Regions from separate parts of the Homo sapiens genome. Here region 1 is linked to region 2. Evidence: fine-mapped expression QTL. Tissue or cell type: whole blood. Region 2 holds a variant in brackets; the other region holds the start of a gene. All regions are shown on one strand. Distances are from middle to middle.

What was found. PIP is the estimated chance that this variant, and not a neighbour inherited with it, causes the effect.
Region 1: it holds the start of CAPN2, and the variant in region 2 is fine-mapped to the expression of CAPN2 in whole blood (TOPMed, PIP above 0.99).

The regions. Positions count from the first base shown.
Region 1 is chr1:223,709,253-223,717,511 of GRCh38, forward strand. CAPN2 (calpain 2) reads left to right here and starts at 3,287. Exons shown (of 21, transcript NM_001748.5): 1 at 3,287-3,625. The coding sequence starts at 3,389. RefSeq lists enhancers at 2,884-2,933, 2,973-3,924 and silencers at 3,034-3,423, 3,634-3,753.
Region 2 is chr1:223,751,244-223,762,529 of GRCh38, forward strand. CAPN2 (calpain 2) reads left to right here. Exons shown (of 21, transcript NM_001748.5): 8 at 754-828; 9 at 1,553-1,713; 10 at 4,237-4,406; 11 at 6,126-6,137; 12 at 8,027-8,238; 13 at 10,338-10,374; 14 at 10,943-11,008. Among named protein-coding and RNA genes, the nearest start is that of CAPN2, 44 kb to the left of the region's middle. RefSeq lists a silencer at 4-298 and an enhancer at 1,002-2,201. The variant C/T (reference allele first, on the strand shown) is at 5,794.

The DNA of each region.
Region 1 (8,259 bases), 44 kb before region 2:
GGGTGTCAGAGACAAGAATAGATGGGGGCAGAGGAATAATAGTGACAAAAATACTTGCTTTAAGAAAAGGTAACATCATGGCTCTCATATTAGTATAAAATAAACACATTTTAAAGATTCCATTTCGGCAGGGTGCAGTGGCTCACACCTGTAATCCCAGCACTTTGGGAGGCAGAGGTGGGCAGATCACCTGAGGTCAGGAGTTCGAGACCAGCCTAGCCAACGTGGAGAAACCCTGTCCCTACTAAAAATACAAAATTAGCCAGGCATGGTGGCAGGCACCTGTAATCCCAACTACTCGGGAGGCTGAGATAGGAGAATCACTTGAACCTGGGAGGTGGAGGTTGTGGTGAGCCGAAATTGTGCCATTGCACTCCAGCCTGGGCCAACAAGAGTGAAACTCCATCTCAAAAAAAAAAAAGAGTCCATTTAACTTGATTAAACGAGGCAATCTGGTGGATGTTATAACTGGTTCAAAGGAGAAACCAAAGCAGCACAATTTACATGACGTGAAGAGTACTGAAATGGAATATGCAACTAGACAAAAAACTGGTCTCTCTACAGGGGGACTGTAGTGCCTCTACTGGACAGAATGCATTTGCATATCTATAGGAAAAATTATTTTCCATTGCTACAGTTATCTACAACTTAGATTACTTACTTAGAGTTACTTAGGTAACTATACATTGCTACAGTTATATACAACTTAGAGTTATAAAATAACTCAAAAACAATGAAAGGGGCTCGTGTGGTGGCTCACACCTGTAATCCCAACACTTTGGGAAGCTGAGGCAGGCGGATCACCTGAGGTCAGGAATTCGAGACCAGCCTGGCCAACACGGTGAAACCCCATCTCTACAAAAAATATAGAAAATTAGCCAGATGTGGTGGTGTGCACCTGTAATCCCAGCTACGTTGGAGGCTGAGGCAGGAGAATCGCTGGAACCCGGGAGGCAGAAGATGCAGTTAGCTGAGATCGTCAAGATCCTGTCACTGCACTCCAGCCTGGGTGACAGGGTGCTACATCTCAAGAAAAACAAAAACAACAACAACAACAACAAAAACAATGAAAGGCTAGACCCAGATCTTCTGGAAGGAGATGCTCTAAACCAGGGTTTCTCAGCCTCTACATGACTGATGTCTTGGACTAGATCATGTTTTGGGTGGAGAATGTAAACCAAAAATAAAATTCTAAGCCTCCCCCTCCCCTACCCCCGCCAACCATCTAAATGGATGGTTCCTCCTTAGCCGAGGCTCTTAAAATTTTAACCTGAAATTTTCAGGCCATGAAGGAAAGGCAAGGTCGGACATGCTTCATTATACCTCTCCAGCGTGAACATCAACCAGAGTTTAGGTCTGATAAGAAACATTTTACTGCCTGTTCACTCTGAAGCCTGCTAGCTAAAAGCTTCATCTATGTGATAAAACTTTTGTCTCCACAACCTCTTATCGCAACCCAAACATTCCTTTCTATTGATCCTGGGCCTTTAGACAAACTCAACCAATTGTCAACCAGAAAATGTTTAAATATTTACCTATATCCTGGAAGCCACCCCCACTACCCACCCACCACCCCCCGCCACTTTGAGTTGTCCCGCCTTTCTGAACCAAACCAATGTATTTCTTAAATGTACTTGACTGATGGCTCTTGCCTCCCTAACATGTATAAAACCAAGCTGCACCCCAACCACCTCGGGCACATGTCCTCAGGACTTCCTGTGTCACAGGTGTGCATCTTCAACCATGGCAAAAGAAACTTTCTAAATTAAATGAGACCTGTTTCAGATTTTCTGGGTTCACAAGAGCTATCTTGGACATTGGAAGATGTTCAGCGGCATCCCTGGCTTCTACTTAGTAAAGGCCAGTAGCACCTCATCTCCTAGCTGTGACCATAAAAACTATCTCCAGACATTCCCAAATGTCTCCTGGGGTGGGTAGGGGACAAAACTGCCCCCAGTTGAGAACCACTGCTGTAGACCATGCACAGTTTTCCAGTGAAACCCAAATTCTTCCCTACTACTGTAGAGAAGAAGAGGAGGTAATTTCTGCCCATCTGCATTTCTTGGCACGCACCCATGTCTCTGTGTGTGAGATGAGAATCACACCCTAGCTCCACAACAGAGTGGTCACAGTAGCCAACACAGGCAGTATTCTAAATGCTCTCTCCCTATAGTAACCCAACTAATCCTGCCAGTTAAATATGAGTTTCAGGTAAACAATGAATCATATTTTCTTTTAGAATAAGTATGTATGCCCATGCAATATTTGGGCCCTACATATACTTTAAAAGTATCTGTTGTTTATCTGAAATTCAAATTAAACATTTGGGAGGGTTGTTGTTTTATTGGCCAAATCATTTTATTTTATTTTATTTTTGATATGGAGTTTCGCTTTGTCACCCAGGCTGGAGCGCAGTGGCGCGATCTCGTCTCACTGCAACTTCTCCCTCCTGGGTTCAAGCGTTTCTCCTGTCTCAGCCTCCCGAGTAACTGAGATCACAGGTGCCTGCCACGACGTATTTTTAGTAGAGACGGAATTTCACCATGTTGACCAGGCTGGTCTCGAACTCCTGACCCCAGGTGATCCGCCTGCCTCCGGCCTCCCAAAGTGTTGGGATTACAGGTGTGAACTACCGCACCCAGCCTTATTGGCCAAATCTGACAACCCTATCTATAATCAAATAAACAGCTGAGCAGTAGTAATTGCAGCATTGTGATTGCAATAGGCCTCCGGTGGCTTAGAGTCCCTGTTCTGCCTGTGACTGTTGTGCCACATTGGGGACGTCATTTAGCGTCTCCGAGGCTCAGTTTTCTCATCTGTAAAATGGGGACAATATCAGCGCCTTCTTCAGAGTCGCTGGGAGGATTAAATGAGATGATGTATGCAGAGCCGTTAAGACGCTGTTTGGCACAAAGTTCAGGGCAGCTGGTTTAGTTTCCTCGACTTCACTACCTGACCCTCTGCTAACTCCCCGGGTGTTTTCCGGACGGCCACAACTATCCTAGCCTTCTTCCCTATGGGCTGCAAAGGTGGCCTCGGGTTCCGGTGGGAGCCCCAACTCTGGACCGCGATTCGCGAGCCTCCCCGGCGCCGGGCCGCGCCATCCCGGGAGCTGTCCGCAGATGGCAGCACCGGCCCCGGGTCGCGGCGTTCCCGGCGCTCGGCAGGCCGCAGGATGGCCTGGTCCCGGGCCGGGAGCCCAGCAGGCCGGGAGCGGCTGAGGCCACACCCCGCGGGCCGGGCCGCTTCCCTCCGGTGAATCATCGCTCGCAGCGGCGGCGCCCGCAGTGGCCGCAGCAGCGCGCCGGGCCCTGGCCGCGCCCCAGCCGAGCGCAGCGCGGAGTCGCCCCGACCTTTCTCTGCGCAGTACGGCCGCCGGGACCGCAGCATGGCGGGCATCGCGGCCAAGCTGGCGAAGGACCGGGAGGCGGCCGAGGGGCTGGGCTCCCACGACAGGGCCATCAAGTACCTCAACCAGGACTACGAGGCGCTGCGGAACGAGTGCCTGGAGGCCGGGACGCTCTTCCAGGACCCGTCCTTCCCGGCCATCCCCTCGGCCCTGGGCTTCAAGGAGTTGGGGCCCTACTCCAGCAAAACCCGGGGCATCGAGTGGAAGCGCCCCACGGTAGGAAGCGCGCGGCAGGACGCGGGCAGGGCGGGGTGCCGGGCAGGGCGGGGTGCAGGCCGGCCCGCGGCGCGCTGGGGCGGGGGGCAGCCCGGGTGCTGCAGTGGGGAAGCCGCAAGCCAGGACCTCGCAGTCCTGCGACACCTCCGCGCCGCCAGAGCCCGGGACTCTGTTCGAGCGTGGGGGGACTCCCGGGGCCTTCCCTCTCTTCCACCCACCACGCTTTCCTGGGCGGGTCGAGGCGAATCACTGCCCTCAGATCCCACTAGCAGGCCACTTTAGGACTTCACAAAAACTCAGGGTGATGCAGGAGGCCGGGGTGAAACTTTGATTGGACTCTAGCGGGGAGCTGGAAGGGAAGGGGAATCGGGTCTGCAGGGAAGGGACGGTGAGAGGCAGCATCTACCAGACAAAGTCCGTCTCCAACTGGGGTTCTGTCTGTTCATGGAGGGGGACAGGCCATAGCCTGGTCATTTTGTGACTAAGGATAGTCTCCTGCAGCCCTGGGGTTAGATTTATTTTTCCAAAGGGGAGCCAGCGATACCTCCTCATAACATTGACACTGGTAATTAACCCAGGACACGGAGGTGTCTCATGGTTTCCCTGGCGGGAATCACCCGGGAAACCTCCGGGAGCCCTCCAGACCCCCTTATCCCGTCCCCCAGGGTCTCTGACCTCCCGGCCCTGGGACAACTTGTGCTCCCCAATCTACTTGTCCATTCTGTTTCTTGGGGAACCCCTGAGGCTCCTCCTCCTTTGGGACACTTCCCCAGGCTTCCCCTACCACGCCTAGGAAAGCCTGCCCTGAAGTCCAACTTCTAGATTCCTGTTGTGAGAACAAGGCTTCCAGCTCTGCTTCCACACCCAGCAGCCTCCCAGGTCACCTTCTGTTACCCTAAATCCAGCCCATAGGTAGCAAGGGCTGCAGGAAGCGCCCTAGCCCAGACTCAGAGCACTTGGGTTCTTCTTCTTGCTAACCTGCTGGTGACCTTGAACGAGCCATTTAACCTCTCTGTGCCTCCATGTCTTCATCTAAAAGAAAACATGCTGCCTAAATATTTTCTCTCTTTTGTGGCCCACTAGGCCCTGCCGTCATGGCCTCCTTTCAGTCTCTCAAAGAGCCGGTTCTTTCCTGCATGAGGCCTTCTCACCAGCAAGGCACGCTGTTACCTGGAGTGTGGCTCACTCTCATTCTTCCCAACTTAGTCACATGTTCCCTTCCTAAAGAGGTCTTTTCTGACCCTTCTTAGCAGCCACCTCCCCACCTTGTTTTTCTCTGTCACCCCACTCATTTCCTTCATAGCATTGTCACAGTTTAGAATATAATCACATGTATTTGTTCTTCCTACTGAACTGCAGGAATCATGTGTATATTATTTACCAGTATATCCCCAGTGCCTGACACATAACCATGCCTTTCACAGTATTCATTCATTCATTCATTCATTCATTTACTCACTCATTTGACAACACTGATTGAGCACCTGTTACATGCCAGGCACTGTCCTGAGAGCTCAGGAGATACACCAGTGAACACAAAAGAAGTGACTGTTTGTAGAATATGGATGCAGGATTGTAATGTGCCTCAAATGAAATTATGGTTGTGAAAGTGATACGCTGACCTGACTCAGTGCCTCACACCTGTAATCCCAGCACTATGGGAGGCCAAGGTGGGAGGATCGCTTGAGCCAGGAGTTCAAGACCAGCCTGGGCAACACAGTAAGACTTGTCTCTATAAAAAAGTAAAAAAAAAAAAAAAAAAAGTGAAACACAAACCAAGAGAATGTGTTCACTTTACATTTGCATGGCACTTTACAGTTTACATAGTGAGTTCACATACTCATTCACTTATTCTTTCATTCATTCAGTAAGCATTTCTCGAATACCTACTATATGCTGGGCACAATGCATATGGTTTCTGCTTCTGAAGACTTACTTCTGAGGCTAGTGAGGGGACAGAGACAGGTCCCCCAACAGTTGGAAATGCCTGTGGGACTTCCAGATGAGGATGTAGAGGTCTAGAGATGATCTAGCGCCACTGCTTAGGGCAGGCGGGCTGTGCACTGCACAACTAAGGAAGAGTGTGACTTTTACGATCCCCATTTGCCAGTTGAAGAAATTGAGGCTTGGGAAGGTTAAATACTTGCTCAGAGTCAAGTGGATATAGGGCATAGATCCAGGACTGTGTGTAGTCTGTGCATGTTGAGCCTACCCCTTATGGCTGCGCTCTCTGCCTCCTTCCTACCTTCTCAAATGCTGCTGAGGTCAGGCAAGGGGAGCACAGTTGTTTCCGCTGGATTTGAACACTAGCAAGTCATTGGTGAGTTTAGCAGAGCAATTTCAATGGAAAGGTGAGAGTAGAAGCCAGATTGTTGTAGACTCCAGAGTAAAGGAACTGGAAATTAAGAACATGATCAACTTATTTAAGAAGGACCCCCGGGAAGAGAGGAGAACTGATAGGTAGAGTAGGACCTGGACTTTGAGAGCCTGTGTTTTTTTCATATGAGAACAACTTGAATGTGTCATATGTTGAATCACCAGGAAGAAGGGATTAAAGATAAAGGCAGGGAGGGGGCAGTGAAACAGGATCCCTGAGGAAGTGAGAATACGGGTTGTGGGCAGGGGAGGGGAGCAGGTTAGCCTTGCAGCAGGAGGAGCTGCTCTTCCTCGGAGAGAGGATTTCACAACACTGGCAAGAGTGGCTCCAGTGCCTGGAGCGGGGATTAAAGCAGTAAGTCCAGTGGGGTCCAAGGGCCATGCAGGGGTACAGTGAGGAGAAAGCAGGTGTGATCCGGGTGGCACATCAGATCCTTCCAGCAACCAGTCTGTTAGGAGCAAGGGCAGATGTTGTGAGCCCCTATGTTTCCCCCAAGAAAATCAAACCTCTGAGAGGTTTCTCACTTGCTTATCTTCAGCTGGCCGAACTCAGCCTCAAACCCATATGTCCTGTCTCCAAGTTCAGTGACTGTTATCATCAACTTCTTCAACAGTAATAATAATAGATCACATTTATGGAGTGCTTGCCAGGGCATGTTTACATCATTATCTCATTTAACACTCAGAACAATCCTCTGTGGTGGGTGTTTTCATCGTTCCCATTTTGCAGGTGAAAAAACTGAGACTTCAAAAGGTTAAGTGACTTCCCAGGGTCCTACGACCTACATAATAAGTGGCAGAGCCAGGATTCAAACCTAGGTTATCAGAATAATGCAGCAAAGCCCAAACCCTCAGCCCCTTTTCACTGACTGGTAAGACCCATATTTAATTCGATGCCCTACATGCCGTGCACAAGTTTCAGTTTTCTGAAGCATCGCTTAGATGCTTAGGTGTTTAGCACCACTCTGAACTCTGACTTTTCTAGAGAGGCTGCTAAAGGCATTAGAAAGTTTCTGAAGTATAATGGAAAAACCCTGCTGGAGTAAGTGCCTGGCACACTCAGGATTATCAGTGTGATTCTTTATAATAAACAGGCTCCCAGCACCAAGCCCAATCTATTCCATCAGCTGGATAAGAGCTCTCTGGCAGGCCTTGGGCCAAGCTGGCTTCCTTTGCCTCAGCAGAAGAGCATTCTGATTCTCTCTGCCATCCCCAAAACTGACAGGAGCAGAGAGAAACAAGGCAGAGGCATGAAGGGAATGTCCTCTGCGGCAGATGGTGCTTCCGGAAGAGCTCCCACAATCTGAGCTAGAATGAACAGGGGCTAGATCCAAGTCTCATATAGGCATACTTCTGCTTGACAGAGTGGGCATGCCGAGGGCCGTTGGGTGGAGGCAGGCGTGTGCAACCCAAGCAGACATGAGACGCAGCTCCTTCAAGGCAAGGTTGCCTGAGCCCAGAGAGGCTCAAATTTGTGCCCCAACTTCCTCTGTGGCTTTTGGGTGGGGCTCTTCAGAATCGAAACACACTCAGAGGGCTGCTGAAAGGGCTAAGAAGTGTTCAAGGTTGGCTTCCATCAGGCTGCTCATGACAATGGCCCCTGAGGTTTTAACACCCTTGAACGCTTGGTACTAAATCAATTAGAGGCAGGGCAGGAGCAGAAAGAGTTGGCGCATTTGATCAGTAAGTTCCAATGCCAGTGCTGTCTATTATCTGTGAACTGTGTTAACTTTGGACACGTCACTTCACCTTTTTGAGCTGTTTCCTCGTCTGTAAAAGGGGGATAATACCCATTCCATGAGGTAAAGCTTTGAGCACAGTCTCTGATGTAAGCAGGTACAGAATATATAGATGCTGTAAGTTTCATGGTCCCATGGAAGAATTCAAAAGGGTTAGATCCCGCCTGCCCTCAAAAGGGTATGTGTTAGGAAATCAGAGTAATACCTAAGTAGTAAATTGCAGAGTCCAGAGACTCTGGGACTCAGACTTGAAGGGATGAGTGAGGATTGGACTAGGACGACTTCACGGAGGAGGTGACAATGAGCCTCAAGGTATGATGCAATATGGAAAAGGAGGGAAGAGAGTGGGAAAGGAAGGAATTTCATGCAAGCAAAACAACTTGCATGCAGTAACAGAGGAGAGAGGATGCTAACCCAGTGGATAGGGTGGCTCTAGAGTGTGGATGGTCTCCACGTCTGGCAGAAAAGGCTGGACTTGCTGCTGTGGCCCCCGGGACACAGCACAATGAAGGAGGCTCC
Region 2 (11,286 bases):
CTAGCTCAAATCCACCCTTCTATGGGGCTTTCAGGGAAAAAAATACACCCCACCTTCCCCCAGGCACTTCTATTACAGGGATGTGAACTTTGTACCAAAGGCCAGAGAAACATCCCTCTGTTGATTTCCAGGGCTTACTGGTAGGCATGTTGAACCCTCAACTATTTGGGGTAAACACTTGTTTGTACATCTGCTGTGGCAACCTCAGCCTACTTGCTCTGCCTCAGGTTGGAGAGGTGGGCAGTACAGAGGCCTGTGTGTAATTCCAGCCAAAGCTCAGGCAGTGGTTAGTTTACCCTGTGCACTGCCCCTGTGTACAGGGCCAGGTCCTTCTGCTCCGTGGACAGAGAGACACCTGCTGAGGCTTCCCAGGCCTCAGCCGGAGGCTCCTCATCAGATCTTCAGTTGTCTCTAAAAGAGCTGCCAGGCCCATCTCAATTGGGCAACTGCTCTGAGCTACTCCATCTCCCTCTAATGAACTATGTTCATTTTCTGGACTCTTCCTTGCCACTGTCTTCCAGCACAACTCACCCGCTCACTTTGCTCCCTGGTTTGCATCTGTATAGTGTTCTATACTCTTTAAAGTGCTGTAAGAGTATTAAAATGCAGCTGTTAGCCAGATGTGGGCTACTTTCCCCCTTTCTGGAGCCTGAGCCCTCAGAGGTGAGAGCAGATGTCCCTCTTCCTCAACTCTGGGGCCTTTGGGGAGAAATCATCGTACACTAACGCCTCTCTCTTTACTTTGTTTTCCAGCTGCCCAAGCTGGAACACTATAGACCCAGAGGAGAGGGAAAGGCTGACCAGACGGCATGAAGATGGAGAATTCTGGTAAGATTAGTGGAGGCTTCAGGGAAAGCTCTGTCTGCCCCAATGTTCTTTACTAGAAAACTGCTAATTAGAAAGAGTGTCGGCCAAAGTGAGTTTACCATGTCGAGGACACAAGCGTGTGGGATCCTGGTTTTGTTATTTTAAGTTCACTATAAGAGCCTGAATAAAGAAATTCTTAAGCCCCTTCAACGGTCCATCTTGACAATGGGGTTTATAAGCTGAGCAGCTTCAGAAAAAGGCTAAGAGGAATTCCTTTGGTAATGTTCAGATCCCAGGAAACAAGGGAAAGATGGGGCCTTTCTCCCCCAGGTTCCGGAGACTCATCCCAGCCCCTTAAGAAACTGGTCCCTTAGTGAGCAGCAATGGACCCACATGTCTGTGTGTCTGCGCCACTCTATAACCACCTGCACCTGGACACAACATGCTCTTTATCAAATGGGGCCCATATATTGTCACATTTGATGGGCACGGCTCCCATTTTTGCAGGTGAGAGTTCTGAGCTTCAGAGAAGTTTAAGTAACCTGCTCAAAGTCACCCAGCTAGAAAGTTGCAGCGCCAGGACTGGAATCTGGGCCTTCTGATTCTGAACCTGGTGCCCATCCACTCAGTTCTAATGAGCTGCTCTGCCTGGCTTTGGGTGGCTCCTGGTCTGGTGTTGGTGGAAAGTCAAGGCTTACCAGTGTGTCTTCTTATCACCTGTGATGATTGTCTCTGCTTTTGCCAGGATGTCTTTCAGTGACTTCCTGAGGCACTATTCCCGCCTGGAGATCTGTAACCTGACCCCAGACACTCTCACCAGCGATACCTACAAGAAGTGGAAACTCACCAAAATGGATGGGAACTGGAGGCGGGGCTCCACCGCGGGAGGTTGCAGGAACTACCCGAGTAAGGGCTGTTGCATATAAGGGCTGTTGCAATGCGGGGCCACCAAAGGCCAAAGCTCCCCTTACCCCACCCTGTGTACCACACCCCAGCCTAGCAGCCCCAGGAGGCAGCTCCTGCTCACTGGAACCCTCTCTGTCTTCTTTCTCCCTGAGCCTTTTCTTTTCCCTGAGCCTTTTCTCCCCGAGCTCTCTTTCTCAATCCCTTACCTCCTGCCCTACCCAGGACAAACCCAAGAGCCACTGTTTCTGTGATGTCCTCTCCAGGCCCTAGATTCCCCAGCGCCCATCATGACCTTCAGCCTGACCTTCCGCCATGCTCACGGAAGCAGTGCTCAATCCCACTTCACGGCCATGAGCTGCTCTATGCACCCCACACCCAGGCAGCCGAGCCTACAAGGGAACCTTGTCCCGGCACCCAGGGAGCCCTCCACATATCAGGCCCTGTTTGTTGCCCCATACTCACTTCAATCAGCAAATGTTGACTGGGCGCTGCCCAGATGGGGTGAAGATTTCTCCTCTGGTCCAGCCTTTGTTGAGCCCCTTGATTCTTCTGCCTTCATGGCTTAGTCCGTCAGCAGTTGTCTGAACATGATGACATCTGCCAATTATGGGGCACACCTTCAGTGCTTGGAACTATCCTAAGTGTTTTGTACACAGGGTGAGGATCCATAATCTGAAAATGTGAAATCTGAAATGCTCCAAAATCCAAAACTTTTTCAGCCCCAACATGATACCACAGGTGGAAAATTCGACACTTGACCTCAGGTGACAGGTCGCAGTCAAAACACAGTCAAAACTTTGTTTCATGCACAAAATTATTTTAAATATGCTATAGAATTACCTTCAGCCTATGTGTATAAATTATATATGAAACAGAAATGAGTTTTGTCATTAGACTTGAGTTCCATCCCTAAGATATGTTATGTATATACAAATATTCCAAAATCCAAAAAAATCCAAAATAGGAAACACTTCTGGCCCCAGGAATTTCAGATAAGGGATATTCAGCCTGCATAACATTCTATCTAACCTTCCCAACAAACTTCTGAGGCAGGCACTTTCTTATCACCTCCATCTCTAAGATGAGGAAACTGAGGCTTGGAGAGGCTAGTGACTTGCTGAAGGCCACAGAGCGTGCTGGGATTTGAACCCAGGCCCCCTGACTGAGGAGTCACTGTGTAAGTACAGTGGCAGCAGATCATGGTCACATAGTGATTCTCTGTGACAGATGAGGAAGCTGAGCCTCTAAGTCGCATACCAGGGCCACAGAGCAAGTAGTCAGACTGCGGCTAGCTGGCCTACAGTTCTGGGGCTCGGACTCCTTCACCTCAAGTATGCAGCCACCAAGTGGCAGTCCCAGAGGCGCTGGGAAGGCCCTCTGCCCCCCACAAGGGACCCCTCCTACCCACTAGATCAGGAGTCGGAAAACTCCCTCTAAAGGGTCAGATAGTAAATAATTTTGGCTTTGTGGGCCACTCAGTCTCTATAACAACAACTCTATTGCTATAACCCAAAGGCAGCCATACTTAAGCGAATGGCCGTGGCTACGTTCCAATAAAACGTTATTTACAAAAACAGGCAGCGGCCTTCGGAGCCATAGCTGCCAACCCCTACACAAGATGGTGCCTGTAATTTCACAGTTAGGGTTTTATCCCATTAGGTATGGAAAGGCAATTAGCATAATTCCCCTTAAACATGAATGAATCTTAGATTTTTTAAATAAATAGGTTTTGGAAGTAAAGAGGGCAGAGACATCAGGAGCAGGGCAAGGGAATAGGCCTGAGAGGACAAGGGACGCAGAACAAGAAAGAGTCTGGAATTATACACAGGATGTTCTTGGCCTCCGGGCTCACCGAGGGGGCGGCGACCGGCAAGTGCAGGGAGCAGATCCCGGAGTCCCCCAGGCCAGCCGAGCCCCGCCCCAGGCTCCCCATCAGAGCCCAGTGAAGAGAAGGTACCATGAGGGGAAGCCACAGCTCTAACCACCCTGCGTTCCAGAGTGACAGACCAGTCCCCAAGACAAGCCAGCCTGGAGCCAGAGAGAGAACTGCAAGAGAAAGTTTCTAATTTAGGTTCCTGTTAGATTCAGACAAGTGCAGGTCATCCTCTCTCCACAGCTACCGTCACCCGTCTCCAGCCTAACAAAGCCTGCAGTCCACACTCCAACCCTGGTGTCTCCCACCTCCTAGCCTCTCCCAACATCGCCTGCCGTCTCTGACCATCTTCTGCCATCCTCTGCCATCTCCCACCATCTCCCACTGTCTCCCACAGCCTCCCACCGCCTCTTGCCAACTCCCACCATCTCCCGCCATTTTCTGACATCTCCCGCTGTCTCCCACCATCTTCTGCCATACTCTGCCATCTCCCACCATCCCCCACCACCTCTTACCATCTCCCACCACCTCCCACCATCTCCCTTTATCTCCATCCCTCTCAGAAGCCTCCAAGCCTGAGACCAGGGCCACCCCCCACCCCCATGCATTCCTGCTCAGGGCTGGGCTCCTCTGCCCCTTTCTGGCTGCAGACACATTCTGGATGAACCCTCAGTACCTGATCAAGCTGGAGGAGGAGGATGAGGACGAGGAGGATGGGGAGAGCGGCTGCACCTTCCTGGTGGGGCTCATTCAGAAGCACCGACGGCGGCAGAGGAAGATGGGCGAGGACATGCACACCATCGGCTTTGGCATCTATGAGGTGCAGAGCGCAGGGGCTCCTGCCCTCCCTTCCCCATGTGTTCATCTCAGCCCCTGCATGGAAAGCTGACCCCAGAGGCAGAACTGGGGATGGGATCCCAGACCGGGAGCTTGGCCAAGGAAAAACAAAACTACCAGCCTGGCCAGGCTCAGGAGTAGCCCCCGTAGGGAGGCCCCTGCAGTGGCTCTGGGTTGTGGGGCCTTCTAAGCCCTTCACGGGCCCCCCACAGCCAGCCTGCAGGGAGTTCCACTCTCAAATGGCCTCCACATCCCTTCTCACATCCTCCAGGCCTGGCATTCTGGTCAGCCTACCCATCTTCAAAGAACAGAATATACTGGGCCACATCAGGCAATACTGTGAGGGCAGGACTGAGTCCATGGGTGCAGCTGCTCAGAGCTCGGCAAAGTCATTGGCCTGGATGGTGGAGAGCTTGGGGACAGGGGAACATTGGTCATGATGCTCCCCCCAGGGCTCTGATGGCTGGAGCCCAGATCCCTACACAGACTCCTGCTGTATGCGTGTTTTCCTTTCACTCTGAGCCACAGCCAGAGGGCAGCCGCATTGCAGTCTCCTCTCCGCCCTCAGGCTGGGGCTGGGGCACTGAGAACTCACCCAACACGCTGGGCCCCTGGGCTCTCCCCACTCCCTTCTGCAAAACAAGAAAGAGCTTTCGTGGGCTGCAGGTAGCCATGCGAGGAGAGGGATGAAAGGAAGGCTTTAGGGCACTGACTGGGGATGCATTTCGGTTTGATGGGCTGGAGCTGGCTCCTCCCGGCTCCCAAAGCCCATCTCTTTTCTCTGACCCATGTCTGCTGAGGTCCTTCAGCAGCCTGAAAAATGGCCCTGGCAGGGACCTGTTTACACCATGGAAAGTGGCAAATAGTACAAATCAGAGCTTCCACCCTCTCCCAAGAGCCAGTTTCCCAGCACACCCCTGGGAGAATCCAGACGAGGTGTCAGGAGAGGAGGCTCTGTGCTCACCACTGGCAACGTTGCCACCCATGGAACACTGACTTCTACCTGCTCACCCACCTGAGAAAGGCAGCTGGGCAAATACCATCAGTTGTAAAAATGCACATAGGCCTAAACCCCTCCGTCTCTGAAACAGGAGCTGAGGACTTCGGATCTGGGACAGAATCGATCCAAGGACAATGCAAATGGAATTGTGATACACAGCTTCCCTCCCACCGGCTTATGGGCTTGGAAATGCAGCCACGGGCTTTCAGAGTTGGGACGGACCTTGGGGATCACTGGGTCCTATTTTTGAGACAAGAAAACTGAGGCCAGAGAGGAGAGGGGACTTGCTCAAGGAAATGCAGACCGGACCACTGGACCTGGCTGACAGAGGCCGGCACTGCTGGCTCCTAGCCCCAGGTGTATTTCACCT[C/T]GCCTGCTGCCTCCTCCAACAGGGCCCGCCTGGCCCTCTTTCCCTGCGTGGGAGGCCGATATGGGCTTTGCCACCTTAGACAAGTCTCTTCACATCTCCATGCCTGAGATTTATACTCTAAGTTAGGAAGGGAGGTGAGGGCTTATCAACATAAGAGGATTTTCTTCAGTGTTGGAGAGGCTTTGAGTTCCTTGGAAAACAGTTACTCGGTTGAATTAGTTGATATTGCTAATGCTACAGAGAAAACGGGGGCAGCGGAAGAGAAGAGCACAGTGATGCATTTTCTTACACTGCTTTTCCGGCATCTGAATTGCATCTCCTTTATTTTGCAGGTTCCAGAGGAGGTACGTCTGGCCCATGTCCCGGGGTGCTCAGGTCACCAAAAAAGCGAGAGGCTTAGACTGCTGGAGCTCAGGGAGCGTCGTGAAGCCCGGGCAGGGGCTGGTGGTCATGAAGGATGAGTCCTGGCCACCCCTGGGGCCCTGCTGAAGTTGCCCAGGCTCTAGATCCCACTGGTCTAAGCTCTGGGCAAGGTTTCTGGAAAGTCCTTGTGGGACCCGCTGCCTCCCTGTGACCTGGCAGAGCCCATACAGGGTTTGGTTCTGGGCAGAAAATCCATGATCCTGAGACTGCAGGAGGCTTTTCACAAAGTTCTTTGTCACTCTTAGGAGAAGACTGAGTCAGGGAAAAGGTGAACCCTGCAGACTGTACTAGAAGACAACGCGGGAGCACAGAGGAGACCAGGACCCAATTCCCAGGCTGTGTGACCTTGGACACGTTACAGCTCCTCTCTGCATTTCAGGGTTTTGTTTTTTTTTTTTTTGATTTTTGGTTTGTTTGTTTGTTTTTTGTCTCGCTCTTTCACCCAGGATGAAGTGCAGTGGCATGATCTCGACTCACTGCAACCTCTACCTCCTGGGTTCAAGTGATTCTCCTGCTTCAGCCTCCCCAGTAGCTGGGACTACAGGCACGCACCAGGATGCCAGGCCAATTTTTGTATTTTTAGTAGAGACGGGGTTTCACCATGGTGGCCAGGCTGGTCTTGAACTCCTGACCTCAGGTGATCCACCCCCTTCAGCCTCCCAAAGTGCTAGGATTACAGGTGTAGCCACCGTGCCTGGCTGCATTTCAGTTTATTTTTCAGTAAAACTGGTCAACCATCCACCTCACTGCACTACCGTGGAATGACTTAAATTTTGCGAGAGCATTTGGGCCCACAGTCACCGCTTGCTGAAGCAGATGGGATGCCTGGTCCAAGGTCACGATTATTAAAGTAGACACACGGGGCACTTTGACCCACCTGTAGTACATTTCTTTCACAGCAAGGCAGTGCAACCGGTAGCACATCGGGCTCTTTTAGATGCTGCTCCAGCCTTGGTCCGGTGGATCATGCTTGGTTTAGAAGCTGGGTTGTCTTTCTCCTGCCCCCAGTCCTGTCTTTGCTTTTATAGTGCATCATACACCACGTAGAACCGAGCCAGGTTCCTGCCATGTGGACGCTGTTCCTGCCTGAGAGTCTCTTAGAGGAAGGCTGGGAACACTGTGGAAAGACTGGGCATCTCTGCAGGCGGAGCTGAATGGATGTGAAACCCCTGTGGGCATGTGCTTCCGAGTTCCTCAGCAGGCATTTGTGTTTTTTGGTAGAAAGTTTGCTTTTTGTTTTTTTTTTTTTTAAGACAAGGTCTCATTCTGTCACCCAGGCTAGAGTACAGTGGTGTGATCATAGCTCACTGCCGTCCTTGAACTCTCAGACTCACGTGAGCCTCCTACCTCAGCCTCCTGAGTAGCTGAGACTACAGGCGCTTGCCGCCACCCCTGGCTAATATTTTTATTTTTTGCAGAGACAGGGGTCTCACTACATTGCCCAGGCTGGTCTCAAACTCCTGGCCTCGAGCAATCCTCTCACAGCCTCCCAAAGTGCTGGTATTACAGGCGTGAGCCACCACACCTAACAAAAGTTTGCTTTTTATCTAAAATGACCCAGGCATTGTCACTGTACTGCTATTTTTTTAAAAAAATTTTGTTGTTTTGTTGTTGTTGTCGTCGTTATATAGATGAGGGCTTCCTGTGTTGCCCAGGCTGGTTTCTGACGCCTGGCCTCGCCTCCTTATACACCAGGACAGCAGGACTGAGCCACCACACTACCCAACTGCTTTTATCTCAGTGAATGAAAATGATACTTGCCTGGAGGCTTCCCCTCATCTACCCCCATGTTTCTCTATTTATTCCTCAGTTAAGTGGGCAGACCAACATCCACCTCAGCAAAAACTTCTTCCTGACGAATCGCGCCAGGGAGCGCTCAGACACCTTCATCAACCTCCGGGAGGTGCTCAACCGCTTCAAGCTGCCGCCAGGAGAGTACATTCTCGTGCCTTCCACCTTCGAACCCAACAAGGATGGGGATTTCTGCATCCGGGTCTTTTCTGAAAAGAAAGCTGACTACCAGTAGGCGGTTTGGTCCCTTCCTCTCCCCACCCTTCCCTGTCCCTCCCCACTGGTCTGTTCCTCGGCCCCTAGAGGGCTCTTTCATCCTCTGAATGTCAGTTACTTTTTCTGTAACACCTGCCCACCTCGAAGGACTAGTGTGGGGATTTGATGGATTGAGGAAGTTCTAGTGTTATAGTAAGGTAAACAATGGAAAAAGCCACTGTGGATATTTTTGGTTGGAAAGGGGTGGCTGTACAGTGAATTGCAGGGTCTAATTTCATAAGCGTGTCTCTGAATTCTCAAGTTGGTACTTTAATGTTAAACTACGAATCCAGTCTCGTCATTTGAAGAAAGCTGAGCAGTGCTGGTGTAATCCTTGATTTTCCAGGCCACCTGGCCTAGCAGAGCCACCAAGGGTGTAAGGTGGGAACCATCTCAACGGTTCCCACCTCCAGAACCTCTCCCTATTATAGTTGTCATGTCACCAGCTCTCTCTCCCCTTCCTCATGGGATCCCACGTTTGGGAACCCTTTGTGGCTGACATCACCATTTCCTGCCACTGTCCAGGTGGCCTCAATTCACAATGGCTTCTGCCACTTTGACTTCTGCCTCAACCATGTATGTTCAGCTGGGCACTTGATTGGCAAAGGCAGAATCTACCCTGGGTGATTTAAGCTAAAGGGAATTCATCGAAAGGCCATTGGAGACTCCAGAACTGATGGGAGGTAGGGGGTCAGGCTAGGAAGAACAGGAGCCAAGGATGTGTTGGAGGACCAGGGTGTGAGATGACCCCTTGGACTCTGGGTCATGTGCTGAGGTCTAAAGATCTTGTGGAGTGTGTCTGAGGTGCTGGGCTTGGGTCAGCCACCTGGCCTGCTGGTTCCTGTAGAGGAAGAGCCAATGGGAGGTAGAGGCAGGGAACTGCCCTTGCCCCAAGATAATGCATGATGCAGAAATAATTTCCCATGGCGAAGGGAGACAAAGCAATGCCAGGCAGCTGCATACCAATGAATGCCACCATAGCACGGCTGTAGCCCCCCTGCCACTGACAGGCTGTCTTCATTTGCTAAAGCCTACCATGGGGGAAGGGACCTTTCCTCTCAGCTCTGAGGATGCTTAGAGGAAGACTGGTGTGTTCAGTTTAGTCCTCACTGACAAGAAAATAGGAGCATGACCTGGTGGCATTAGAATAACAGTGTCCTTTGTCAAACTCATTACTCTCCCTGCCAGCCACAAGTCACTCTCCCAGGGAAGCCTCAACCCCTCAACTCTCTCTAGGGTGAGCTCCCTACCCCAAGAGGACACCCCACCTCTCAAAGGTTTCTGACTTCCTTGTCCCAAAATATTAATCCTTCTGCTCCAGATTCCAATGATCAGCACCAAGAGGTCCCCTTTTCCTTCTGCCAGGCATTGGCCCTGCTGATAGGACTCTTGGTCACTTAGTTAAAATCACAGTGGCCCAAGGAAGAACCTCCTGAGCTTGATTACCCTCACTATGGAGCAGAAGGACCTGGCCCTGGACACAGGGGCGGTGCACAGTATAAACTAACCACTGCCTGACCTGAGCTTTGGCTGAAATGACACACAGGCCTCTGCACTGCCCACCTCTCCAACCTGAGGCAGAACAAGTAGGCGATGATTTGCACTGCATGATTCTCAGTGTGAAAGTCTATGTTGGCAAAGGATATTTCAAGTGGAACTTAGAAGCTATTCCTTAAGGCTAGGACGAACACCACGCTACACGCGAAGGCTATCCTATTTGATAAAGATCAAAAACTAGCAAACAAAAATCTCCAGCTGCCCACGTTGCTTTGGTCATGACCCTTCCTTCAGATCACTTCTGCCTTTATTTTTGCTGTTTAGGGGATGTGTTATCACAGAAACTTGGAATGCAGAGAAATGTTATCACAGAAACTTGGAATGCAGAAAAATTTTTGCTTTTTAGGGGAGGTGTTATCACAGAAACTTGGAATACAAAGACCTCCCCCCACCGCAGCCCTGCCCCACCCCACCTACCCCCTGCTGGATTTAGCACTGCACTTCCATTTTAGCAGTGATTTCCTTCCTTTTTGCCCTCGCCTGCCTTCCAGTAACACATAATTTCCTTCTATTTCCAGAGCTGTCGATGATGAAATCGAGGCCAATCTTGAAGAGGTATTTGTAACTCTTTGAATTTCACCCACTCTGTCCTGGACAATCCAGAGAGCAGAGGAGCAAAAAAACTCCAAGAGTTTTTGGACTTCACGAACAAAGCCTGAAACTAAGGATAAAGCCGGGTACTGGGAATCCAAGAGTCGACTACCTGCATCAGCTCTGGCCTCTGTGCTGGGGGCATGGGCCAGTCCCTTGCCTATTGGGCTGTGCTAGCCACTGTCAAAATCCATCCACAACATTCCAGCTAGTCTTTATTCTTCTGAGTCCCCACTAGAATAGATCCTAAAAGGCCATTTTAATTGGATGCTAGAGAAGATACCTCTGTGAGAAATTAGAATATTACTCCTTCCCACATAATTTACATTCCTTCTTGTGTTTTAATTAGAAAAAAAAAACCTTATATTAATTCTTCACACTATACCTGATCTTAACCCAAATCACCGTAGAATTTGGGCCCCAGGGAGGGGTAGAGAAGGGGAGTGGGAGGTGGCTGCCATGGAAGGGCGGGCAGACACTTGGTGTCATGCCTCGCTCTGATGCATTCTCATGTCTCTGCCTCACCTTCCAGTTCGACATCAGCGAGGATGACATTGATGATGGATTCAGGAGACTGTTTGCCCAGTTGGCAGGAGAGGTAAATGTTCCCAAAAACGATGTTATGCACTCTGGTTGATGCAAAGGAAGAGACAGTGTGTGTCCCCAAGGGGACTTTAGTTTAAAGGGGAGAGGAAACAAACTGAACAAAAGCAAAGAGAAATTGCAAATGGCACTTGGGTTCCAGCTCAGCCCTCTTGCGTGTGTCCTCCCTAAGACCTCCGCATGCTGCCGGGGGCTTCCATTTGCATGGTCAGCCCTGACTCTGTGTTCCTCCTTCCTTAGGATTCCTGGGCTCACCTTGTGACTGTTTTATTT